3 linked regions of the Homo sapiens genome follow. The protein of the gene in region 3 purifies or fractionates together with the protein of the main gene of each other region. This does not show direct contact. Each region holds a gene or a part of one and is shown on either strand. Other genes may lie near its edges. The genes, in order: ACACB, WDR3 and TSSK4.

Region 1 (3,652 bases), on a different chromosome or scaffold from region 3:
TGGGCGGATCACGAGGTCAGGAGATCGAGACCATCCTGGCTAACATGGTGAAACCCCGTCTCTACTAAAAATACAAAAAATTAGCCGGGCGTGGTGGCAGGTGCCTGTAGTCCCAGCTACTCAGGAGGTTGAGGCAGGAGAATGGCATGAACCCAGGAGGCGGAGCTTGCAGTGAGCCGAGATCGCACCACTGCACTCCAGCCTGGGCGACAGAGCGAGACTCCATCTCAAAAAAAAAAAAAAAATTTTTAAACATACAAGTTGAAAGAATTTTACAGTGGGTGCCCATATACCCCTGATTAGATTCTGCCATTACCATTTTTCTGTATTTGTCACCTGTAAATTGCAGATATCAGTGTCTTTATCCTTGAATACTTCAACATGCATGTCATTAATTAGAGCTCCAGAGTTTTTTTTGTTTGTTTGTTTATTTGTTTGTTTTAAGAGACAGGGTCTTAGGCCGAGCGTGGTGGCTCACATCTGTAATTCCAGCACTTTGGGAGGCCGAGGCGGGCAGATCACTTGAGGCCAGGAGTTTAAGACCAGCCTGGCCAACATGGAAAAACGCCCATCTCTACAAAAAATACAAAAATTAGCCAGGCCTGGTGGCATGCACCTGTAATCCCAACTACTCAGGAGGCTGAGGCAGGAGAATCTTTTGAACCTGGGAGGCAGAGGTTGCATTGAGCCAAGATTGTGCCACTACACTCCAGCCTGGGTGACAGAGTGAGACCCTGTCTCAAAAAAAAGAAAAGAGACAGGGTCTCACTCTGTCGCCCAGGCTGGAGTGCAGTGGCACAATCTCGGCTCACTTGCAGCCTCTACTACCCTGGGCTCCCATCTCAGCCTCCAGAGTAGCTGGGACTACAGGGACACACCACCACGCCTGGCTAATTTTTTTTTTTTAATTTTTATTTTTTAGGTAACAGAGTTTGCCATGTTGCTCGGGCTGGTCTTGAACTCCTGGGCTCAAGCGATCCTCCTGCCTTGGCCTCCCAAAGTGCTGGGATTATAGATGTGAGCCACTGCATCTGGCCCCCAGACTATTTTCAAGCAATTCTCACAGCTAGATGTCACACTGTTTTGCCCGTAATACTTTAGCACACATTTCTAAAAGACACAAGTTTTTTTTTTAAACCATTGCCATAATTATATCTATCTAACAGAATGAATGATAATTCCTTAATCTAGTACCTAGTTCATGCTGACTGTCCTCCAGGTGGCTCAAAGATGTCTTTGAATGGTTTTATTCAAATCAGGACCCACAGGGTTTCTCTTAAGTCTCCTCATCTGTAATAATCAGCAACTCCCTTTATTAAATGCCAGTTACTTATTGAAACTGGGTCATTTGTCCCGTAGAATTTTCCATATTCTGGATTTGGCTGATTGCATCTTCCAAGTGTCATCTAACATGTTCTTCTATACCTATAAATAAGTACTAGGTCAAGAGGCTTGAATCAATTCAGGTGCAGATCCTTAGCAGGAATACTTTGAAGGTGTTTTTCTGTTTTCTCTTGCATCACGTCAAGAACATAAAGTTCAGTTACCCCACTTTTAGTGATTTTTGTTCATTAGTGAGTTTAGGGTATCAGTCTGACCTCCGTCGTAAAGTTCCCTATCACCCTCTTGCCGAATGACTTTACTGCCTGCTGATGAGCAAAGCCCAGATTATTGTTTCGTTACTATAGTGATTTTCTACTTCCGTCAATCTTTCTGTGCTTATTAGCTCTTGTTGTTTTTTGTTGTTGTTGTTGTTGTTTCTGGTTTTGTTTGTTTGTTTTGAGACAGGGTCTCTCTCTGTCATCCAGGCTAGAGTGCAGTGGCACAATCTTGGCTCACTGCAACCTCAACTTGTCAGGTTCAAGCGATCCTCCTGCCTCAGCCTCTTGAGTAGCTGGGACCACAGGCGCTCGCCACCATGCCTGGCTAATTTTATGTATTTTTGATAGAGATGAGGTTTCACTACATTGCCCAGGCTGGTCTCAAACCTGAGCTCAAACGATACTCCCGCCTTGGCCTTCCAAAGAGCTGGCATTACAGGCATGAGCCACTGTGCCCGGCCCAACTCTCATTGTTCTCTACCACACGACTTTCCTCAAGCATTTGCTTACCCTGAAATACAGTCCCTGAAAGGCAGAGTACATGGTTGATTATGTCCTTTTTTTGTGTGTGGGCGGGGCTAAGTCTATTTTCAGAGTAATGAGTAGCCCTAGCAGCCATGAAAAGTATCAACGAGTTGTTTTTGTTTTGAGGGGTGTTACGACCTTATGGTTTTTAAAGATATTTTGATGTGTTTCAATCCACTGCAGTCATCATCCGTTTGCAGCCTCTCTTTGGTAGCCCATGCCCCTGGAGGGTCCTTGTTTTCAGGCAAGAAGATATCTCAGCTCATCATGTACATTTCTGCCCCAGCCCTAGAATCAGACATTTCTCCAAGGAGTCCTGGTTCCTTTCAGTGGGAAATGTTCTTAGAGACATTATAATCTGGACACTAACGATGTCTGTGGAATTTTTACAAGATCGCCTTGGCTTCTCTGTGCATGATGAACTGGAGGGACAAGACCAGGCCAGAGAGACAGGTCAAGAGACTTTCGCAGTGGCCCAAGTGAGATATAACAGTGGCTTGAACTTGATCTTAGGTAAATCACTTAGCGCAATGCTTGGTACATGATGGAGAGCACCATAAATGGTAGCACACTCTTTCATCAATGACTTGATCTGTATTAGTTTACTTAAACTCCAAAACTGTATGAGGAAGACTTCCTTATCATTGTATACATGAGAAAACCCAAGCTCAGAGAGGTGAGGAAACTTGTTCAAGGTCACACAGGAAATGAACAGCAGAAATAGAACCTGAATCCAGATCTCGTGCTCTAACCAATGCACTGTGTCGCCCAGAGGGTTCTTGGTTTCACACTCAAAAATGACTTACATTTTGGTGCAAAACCTGATCCATCACGAGTTCATGGCGATTCTCCTGGTTGTGCCCTCAGGTTTGTGATTTTATTTGCTTCCCAGTGAGATCATAAACCCACGAGGGCAGGGCTGGGCCATTCCTGCCTGTTTGCTCCATGTCTCCAGCAGCGTGTACCACACCTGGCAGGTGCTCAGGAAATACCTGCTGATGAATGAGTGAATGGCTGAAGAAGGCAAATTCACAGCACAGCAGGGGGAGAAGCGAAGAAGGATAGGATTCCACCTGTGAAGATGGCAAGGACCAGAACTTAGGAGAGCTGAACAGTGGACTTCAGCAATTTCTGCAGGGATAATTCAAGTGAGAGGCTAGCCAGACAGATCAGACTGATAGGCCTTTAGACTGCGGAACATGTTTTCCATTGGAGGTGGAAAAACGGCTCCTCTTACCTTCCTTCAAGGCAGGGGCCGATCTGGAACCATTCAGGCCAGTTTTGCTTGGGATGGCAGATTCACCACATCAAGAATTTGATCTGAACCAGGCATGGTGGCTTATGCCTGTAATCCCAGAACTTTGGGAGGAAGAGGTGGGAAGATTGCTTGAGGACAGGAGTTCAAGACCAGCCTGGGCAACACAGAAAGACCCTATCTCTACAAAATATAAAAAAGATTAGCTAGATGTCGTGGTGTGCACCTGTAGTCCCAGCTATTTGGGAGGCTAAAACAGGAGGATTGCTTG
Region 2 (3,305 bases), on a different chromosome or scaffold from region 3:
CCTAATGTGGAGAAACTTTACGAGACATGAAGACTCCAAGTGTGGAGGAATAAATTGTAGAAGTTCTCTGGACCATTGGATTTTCTTTTCCCTGGGGAAAGTCTTTTGGTCGTTTATCATAATTGCTGCTTGTTAAAACAGGTAAAATACTTGTTAAGGGCTGTGCTTTTCATGACTAAATTATTTGCATATATAAACCTAAATAACATTTTAGAATCATAGAATTTCTTCTCTGGCAACATCAGTTCAATTTTAGGTAACTGTCTATCCAATGCAAATTCTGCATGCTCAGGCTTGGGGGTTAGAGGATGGATATGCCAATGTCTAGAATGTCTTCTGTTCTCCCTAGTGTACATTTCTCTCCTAACTGTGACTGGCTTTCTATAAGGAGCCATCAGTATGGTCAAGCCCCAAACCATATCTACATCAGATTTCATGCTTTTTTTTTTTTTTTTTGGTGGGGAGAGGGACAGATCATTGTTGACACTGTAAGTAAGTAGATAAAAGATCTGATAAGATTTTTTGCCCTTTATCTGTGTCTGACAGGTTCTCTCTAATCTATAAGCAGGGAAATAGAAAATTTATTATAAATACAAATGATTTCATTGCTATGATCAGCAGCAGTGACTCAGGTATTTGCATCTAATAACCTGTGTGGAGAGGGTAAGGGCACTTGATTTAGTTACCAGAGGAAAAAACTAGTTCTTTGGCTAGTTTCCTTCTGTCACAATGGAAAAACCCTGTCATTACTCAAAGGAAGAGAAAAAGGGAGGGGAGGAAGGTGAGAGGAAGGGAGAGAGACTTTCCCAGTGAGGACTTTCCTTTCCTATTTTATATTTTGCTCCATTGTACTTACTGCCATCATTGTTTATGGTTTACTTACTTTATGTATTGTCTGTCCTCCCACTGGAATGTAAGCTACATAAAGGCAGGCGTTTCGGCATCTTTGAAAGCATAAATGAACAAATGAACTAAACTTCATTTATTGACATCAGTGCTATCTGACACAAGTTCCTTTAACTTTCTCCTTCACCTCGGAATATCTGAATCATCAGCTATCTTCAGCTTCTCCCTTGCCAAGACTAACCCTTCAGCTCTGTTTTTTATTATTCTTTTGCCCTGTTTTGGATATTGCAGTTTCAATCACTTCTACTCATTCATATTTTTAATATATATCTTCTGCTCCACTCTCTTCAGCCTACAAACATGTAGGTCTACATTAAACTGAAAATCCTTCCTATATTCTGTTGCATCCTTGAGTAACATATTCTCTTGCTCTTTCCTTTAATAAATTTTCTTGAAAGAATATCCATAACTAATGTTTCTGCTTTCTTAATACAGTCATTCTTTACCTTTTGCAATTTAGTTTTTATCCCAACCAAATTTAACACTTTAAATCTGAATTTTCTTTGACATCTCAATAGCATCCGTCAATTGTGTCCGTCTTTTCCTTGAAATTCTTCCTAAGGCTTTTGAAGTATTTCACCATTTTCTAATTGCTGCTTTTGTCTCCACTGGCTCTTCTTCCTCCTGCTCCCTAAACCGACTCCAGATTTCTGTTCCTTGCCCATACATTCAGCCATCACCTCTGTGTAAACGATGCTTAAAATTATTATATCTCCAATTCTGACTTCTCAGTTGAGATCTAATATTACATATACATGATTCATTACCTCAGCCCAAAACTTTGAAGTTGAACTCGATGTCCTCTTTCTTCCATCCATCAATGGCTTCTACCTCAGATTTTGCAGTTTCCTTCCCCCACCATGTCTTTCATTCATGTCCCTCTTTTATGTTGACTGTTCCCCCACTCCCAGTTCTTGTCCTCACACATGGCCCATTCAGGTAGACTTCTAATGGTACTTTTACACATCCAGTTGTTCCCCTTTGACATGTCCTGCACAATAACCCTGGATTCATCTTAATAAAGATATGCTGATCATGTCACCCACAGGGTCAGGAATCTGCAGTGGTTCACTGCTGCTTAAATAATAAAATTCAAGCCAAGGATTTAAGATCTTTCATAACTTGACTCCAACCTACTTTCCCACTATATTCCTAATACTCAAGCTTTTGGCAAGTTGAACTCCCTGCCAATCATCCCAAACACCTGGAGCTTTCCTGTTGCCATGGTTTTGTTCATTATTTTTACTTAAAGTTCCCGTCAATCAAGTTTTCACATTCTATAAGATCCAGCTCAAAAATCAAATAAATAGAGAACTGTAACACAAGCAGCACACAATTCATGCCACTGGAGAAAGTACAAAATAGAAATAAAATGTGAAGACTTTATTTCTGCTACAAATTATATAATACCTTTTAAGACAGAGTCCAATTATCCATTTTTATATATGATAAACTATTTTATACAGTACCTTGGAGGTAATAGGTTCTTGATATCTATCTAATATCTGTTTGGCTGAAGACACTGATAAGGAGGAATGCATGCATAATTCAGTGAATACCCAACCTTTATAATAATAAGGTATTTCCTATCCTTCCATAAAATTATAATTTTTTTGTGATAGATACTTGCTGTTTTATTATTCTGTCTGATATTCCGTAGATAGCCAATAACATTTACATTTATTCAATCTGAAGTTACTGCACATATACTATGTGTCAGGTATTTTTTTAGATTTGGCTAGGTGCTTTCAAAGATGAATGAAGATGCTCTTTGTCTTAATAAATTTAACTCTGATTTTGAAGATAGAATTAATAAAGTAGAGATGCATTTTGACTTCCATGTTTTCCTCACTCGTGTAATTTCTGCACTATATATGATTACTCAAGTTGAACTTTAAAGGATATTTGCTTCCACAGGTAGGAACAGAACCTCATGCTCTGTCATAATCTCGATATTGTGAGAGATGTGTGCTGATCCCTTGGCCCCATCCTCTCCAACAGCTGTGGCAAATAACTCTATATTCAGTTCTGTCTGCATACCAGCTGCCACCTATAAGACACAAGGTAGCTTTAGGACCAGACAACTCTGAGTTCAAACCTTGCTTTTAATAATATGAATTTGAGCAAGTTACTTAAACTCTCTTACCTTTGGTTTCTTCATCTATAAATTTGGCACTAACAAATGGTAGTTATTATAAGCATTTAGCGGAATTACTTCATAATGAAGGTAGAATTCCATTAAGTAAAGGGGAGCCAGGGTAAATTGTTGAAGGGGCAAACCAGGTGCTATTTAGGAAAAAGCATAAGGAAGCTAAATGCCAGGTTATTGGAAGTGGAACTGAAGGCAAAATTTTGCAATACTCCTAATTGTGCTAGTTTTTGAATGTCGGTAGTGACTT
Region 3 (4,316 bases):
TGGGATGGACAGACTGGAGTGGAGCAGAAGGCTGGCGGGGGCCATCTGTTCGATGATGGAGGCGTGAACTAAGGGATTAGCAGTGGGCTCAGAAAACCATGAGAATATTATCAAAGAGAGAATCAGGAGGTATAAGAGATAGGATTTCGTGATAGATTGAATGTAGGGACTGAGGCAGGAGGGTCTGGGATGACATATGAGTGTCTAAATTAAGGGTGATTAGTGTACAACTCACAGAAAAGTCTGAGAGAAGAAAATAAGTTCAATTATTGATATGGTTAAGTTTGAGATGGATATGGTAAGTTCCATGCCTGGGGCAGACATGGCCACGTAATACTGGCTGCTCTATCTAAACTCCAGATATATGGGATGGAGATGAAATTAGGAGCAGTCAGCATAAATGTAGTATTGACACCATGGGTATGGACAAGATTAAGGGAGGATGTGAAGGTTTGAGAAAATAAAGCTTGTGATGTAACACTTGGGATATGATTAAGGGATGGATAGAGAAAGATATAACTTCAGTGAAGGCTGAGGAGTGACCAGAAGGATGTGGAGGAAAACTAGAGAGTTCTGGCTCATAGAAGATAAGGATGCATTTCAAGGTTAGATTTTCCTAGAACATGTTCAATACCTTACAATGGTAATACTTTCACACTCGTATTTCTCATGCTGCATTATAAGCTTTAGGATCATAGTGTCTCTATTGGCCTTATTGAACTAAGGGGGCTGCAATGGGCTCGGAAAGCCTTGAGTGTATCATTAAAGAGATAAGTAGGAGATAGCAGAGACAGGATTTGATGAAAGATTGTATGTAGGGATTGAGGAAGGAGGAAGGGTCTGGCATGACATTTGGGTGACATTTTATCCAAGTATTCAGCACAGTGTCTGGTACTTAGTAGGTACTCATATATCAATGAAAGGTCTGATCTTTAGGAGTTTCACCAGACTGTGGAAGGTGCCTCTGGGAATGAGTACGTTTCCAACTGCACTTCATTCTCTTTTTTTTTTTTTTTTTTTTTGAGACGGAGTCTCGCTCTGTCGCCCAGGCTGGAGTGCAGTGGCGCAATCTCGGCTCACTGCAAGCTCTGCCTCCCAGGTTCACGCCATTCTCCTGCCTCAGCCTCCCAAGTAGCTGGGACTACAGGCGCCCGCCACTACGCCCGGCTAATTTTTTGTATTTTTAGTAGAGACGGGGTTTCACCGTTTTAGCCGGGATGGTCTCGATCTCCTGACCTCGTGATCCGCCCGCCTCGGCCTCCCAAAGTGCTGGGATTACAGGCGTGAGCCACCGCGCCCGGCCGCACTTCATTCTCAAGTTTTGTGGCCAACGATGGATAGGAGGTGGATTGTGATGTATTCGGAACATGGGACCTTGAGGAGTTCCGTAACCAAAAGGAGAAAGTAACAACAGCCAGTGGAGACAAAAAGAACTGCTTCTCTTTCTTTCCCCCTCCAAGTTCCTAGTGGAGGGCTGAGTCCAGCATCCCAGACTCGTGTGACTATATAGGCAAGCATTTGGGGACCTACTTCACTTTGATACCCTAGCCTTCAGCAGCTCAAGGTGTTGGCCTTTGGATAGGAGGCTTCCAAGTAGTAAAGCTCCCTGCTCTCAGCAAGCCCAACACCATGGGGAAGGGAGATGTCTTAGAGGCAGCACCAACCACCACAGCCTACCATTCCCTCATGGATGAATATGGTTATGAGGTGGGCAAGGCCATTGGCCATGGCTCCTATGGGTCGGTATATGAGGCTTTCTACACAAAGCAGAAGGTTATGGTGGCAGTCAAGATCATCTCAAAGAAGAAGGCCTCTGATGACTATCTTAACAAGTTCCTGCCCCGTGAAATACAGGTTGGAAAGGGGGCTGGAAGAGGGAACTGGAGCTTGGTACTAAGCTGCTTGAGGTTTCTCAGAAGGGGTATGGCCAGGAGGGGTGGGGCCAGAAACCCCTAAACCAGAACTGAAATGTCTCACTAAGCAGCTAGGAAACTTTATGTAAGTTAAACCTCTTTCCCATCCACCCACTCACCTTCAGTCCCCAAAAAGTAAAGGCACAAAACATAGCATTTGCCCACAGGCCACCAGTTCTCTGGGGTTGAGGGGCTGATCCTATTGCAAAGTCCTAAGTCAGTAGCTGAGGGTAGGAGACGGCTGGGAGTGCAGTCAGGGTTCTCCCTTCCCAGGTTTGATGGGTCCTTCTTCTGGGGTCAGGTAATGAAAGTCTTGCGGCACAAGTACCTCATCAACTTCTATCGGGCCATTGAGAGCACATCTCGAGTATACATCATTCTGGAACTGGCTCAGGGTGGTGATGTCCTTGAATGGATCCAGCGCTACGGGGCCTGCTCTGAGCCCCTTGCTGGCAAGTGGTTCTCCCAGCTGACCCTGGGCATTGCCTACCTGCACAGCAAGAGCATCGTGCACCGGTGAGGGCGCTGCCACCCAGACTGGGGCCTTTGCCCTCAAGGGGGTTTTATGCACATCTCCCATTTCCTGTCCTTTTTTCCTCTTTCGAACTCCCTCCTCAATATCTAGCCTATTCATGCACTCTATTTTAATCATATGGTCAAGGATACTGATAAAGTACTCACTGTATGCAAAGCATTTTATGAAATACAATGGTGAGCTCCCGGTGGTCCTCAGATACCATCCTCTGTCTCTCTCCCTACTTTGGGCTCTGCTCACAACTCCATGGCTTTCCTTCCTCTCTACCTTGTGCCCTCATAATGGTTTCTACCTCCCACTTCCTCTGTCCTCATCTTTACCCTCTGACCCCTGGCCCTTCAGCTCCCAGTCTAAAACTAAGCCCTCTCCCCAGCCTGATGCCCAGCCTTTCTGCTGCTGGTAGGGACTTAAAGTTGGAGAACCTGTTGCTGGACAAGTGGGAGAATGTGAAGATATCAGACTTTGGCTTTGCCAAGATGGTGCCTTCTAACCAGCCTGTGGGTTGTAGCCCTTCTTACCGCCAAGTGAACTGCTTTTCCCACCTCAGCCAGACTTACTGTGGCAGCTTTGCTTACGCTTGCCCAGAGATCTTACGAGGCTTGCCCTACAACCCTTTCCTGTCTGACACCTGGAGCATGGGCGTCATCCTTTACACTCTAGTGGTCGCCCATCTGCCCTTTGATGACACCAATCTCAAAAAGCTGCTAAGAGAGACTCAGAAGGAGGTCACTTTCCCAGCTAACCATACCATCTCCCAGGAGTGCAAGGTACTGGCTACCTAAGGAGGGCTGAGCCTTCAGGGATGACCCACAGGGAGGGGTGAATATCCAACCTAGGTCACCCAACCTAGGCCTCCCAACCCTGGGGAAAGGCTCTTCCCACACCAGAGCCATCTCACACACTAGCTCCTGTCCTATAATAAACAGTATGGAAGGCATAAAGGGCCAACCACTAGGCTCCAAACCTTGCCTGATACACAGGTTCCAGCTTCTTTCTCTTTAGGCCAGAAGGGAAATATGGAAAGCATTCCTCCCAAGGAACTCTTCCCTTCCCCTCCAGGGAGTTAACTGCCTGGGTCTCCAAGATAAAATCAGAGCCACACCCACTTTGACCAGAGTGGTATGATGGGCTATCCTGCTTCTTTCTTAGGTCCAACTGCTCATTGCCTGTGTGGCACAATGGAGAAAAACTCAGGCAAGACCTCTCTCTCCCCTGCTCTAGAACCTGATCCTCCAGATGCTACGCCAAGCCACTAAGCGTGCCACCATTCTGGACATCATCAAGGATTCCTGGGTGCTCAAGTTCCAGCCTGAGCAACCCACCCATGAGATCAGGCTGCTTGAGGCCATGTGCCAGCTCCACAACACCACTAAACAGCACCAATCCTTGCAAATTACGACCTGAAAATGGCTGAGGGAGGGGGCTAAGAGAGGAGCAAAGCAGGAGGTCTTGGGCTAAAAATCTTTTTTACCAAAAATAAATCTAAGTCTGATTTAGTTTCATCAACTAGGGTCAAAGACATTCTTTTCTCAAGGCAATCTTATAGCAGGGAACACTGCTGGAGTAAGAGATAGATTTCTGCCCAGAGCCTGTAACCAATAATCTTGACACTGTGTTAAATCAATAGTGTAATTCATGATGTGGCTCTTAGGGGATGGGGTGCTCAGATTAACGCTCTATTTTGGGAAGCTTTATTATTCAACTCAACATATGCTCATTATTTTACATCTTTGTGCTGTTTAAATGCTCAAGTAGTGGGGTAAAAGCCCTGGTTCTTCCACTTTGATTATGGCTCTGCCTGTCTATAGTCCAAAGTAATGGCACTGTTAGTTCTTTTAGAAATGGGTATTCGAGCTGGGTGCGGTGGC

What was found.
Region 1: the proteins of TSSK4 (region 3) and ACACB purify together in Homo sapiens (affinity purification with mass spectrometry; one large-scale study listed by BioGRID and IntAct). This does not show direct contact.
Region 2: the proteins of TSSK4 (region 3) and WDR3 purify together in Homo sapiens (affinity purification with mass spectrometry; one large-scale study listed by BioGRID and IntAct). This does not show direct contact.

Annotation. Positions count from the first base shown.
Region 1 is NC_000012.12:109,122,952-109,126,603, forward strand, and holds part of ACACB (acetyl-CoA carboxylase 2), read left to right. Parts: intron 1-1,194; exon of another isoform or gene 1,195-3,652. UniProt on the Homo sapiens protein: Mitochondrial enzyme that catalyzes the carboxylation of acetyl-CoA to malonyl-CoA and plays a central role in fatty acid metabolism.
Region 2 is NC_000001.11:117,963,798-117,967,102, forward strand, and holds the end of WDR3 (WD repeat-containing protein 3), read left to right. Parts: 3' UTR 1-1; coding exon of another isoform or gene 2-141; 3' UTR 142-2,746; downstream 2,747-3,305. Other genes in the region: SPAG17 (sperm-associated antigen 17), read right to left, coding at 2-141, 2,812-2,956. UniProt on the Homo sapiens protein: Part of the small subunit (SSU) processome, first precursor of the small eukaryotic ribosomal subunit.
Region 3 is NC_000014.9:24,204,295-24,208,610, forward strand, and holds TSSK4 (testis-specific serine/threonine-protein kinase 4), read left to right. Parts: upstream 1-1,401; 5' UTR 1,402-1,629; coding exon 1,630-1,854; intron 1,855-2,214; coding exon 2,215-2,429; intron 2,430-2,821; coding exon 2,822-3,215; intron 3,216-3,597; coding exon of another isoform or gene 3,598-3,669; coding exon 3,670-3,852; 3' UTR 3,853-3,954; downstream 3,955-4,316. UniProt on the Homo sapiens protein: Serine/threonine kinase which is involved in male germ cell development and in mature sperm function. May be involved in the Cre/Creb signaling pathway. Phosphorylates CREB1 on 'Ser-133' in vitro and can stimulate Cre/Creb pathway in cells.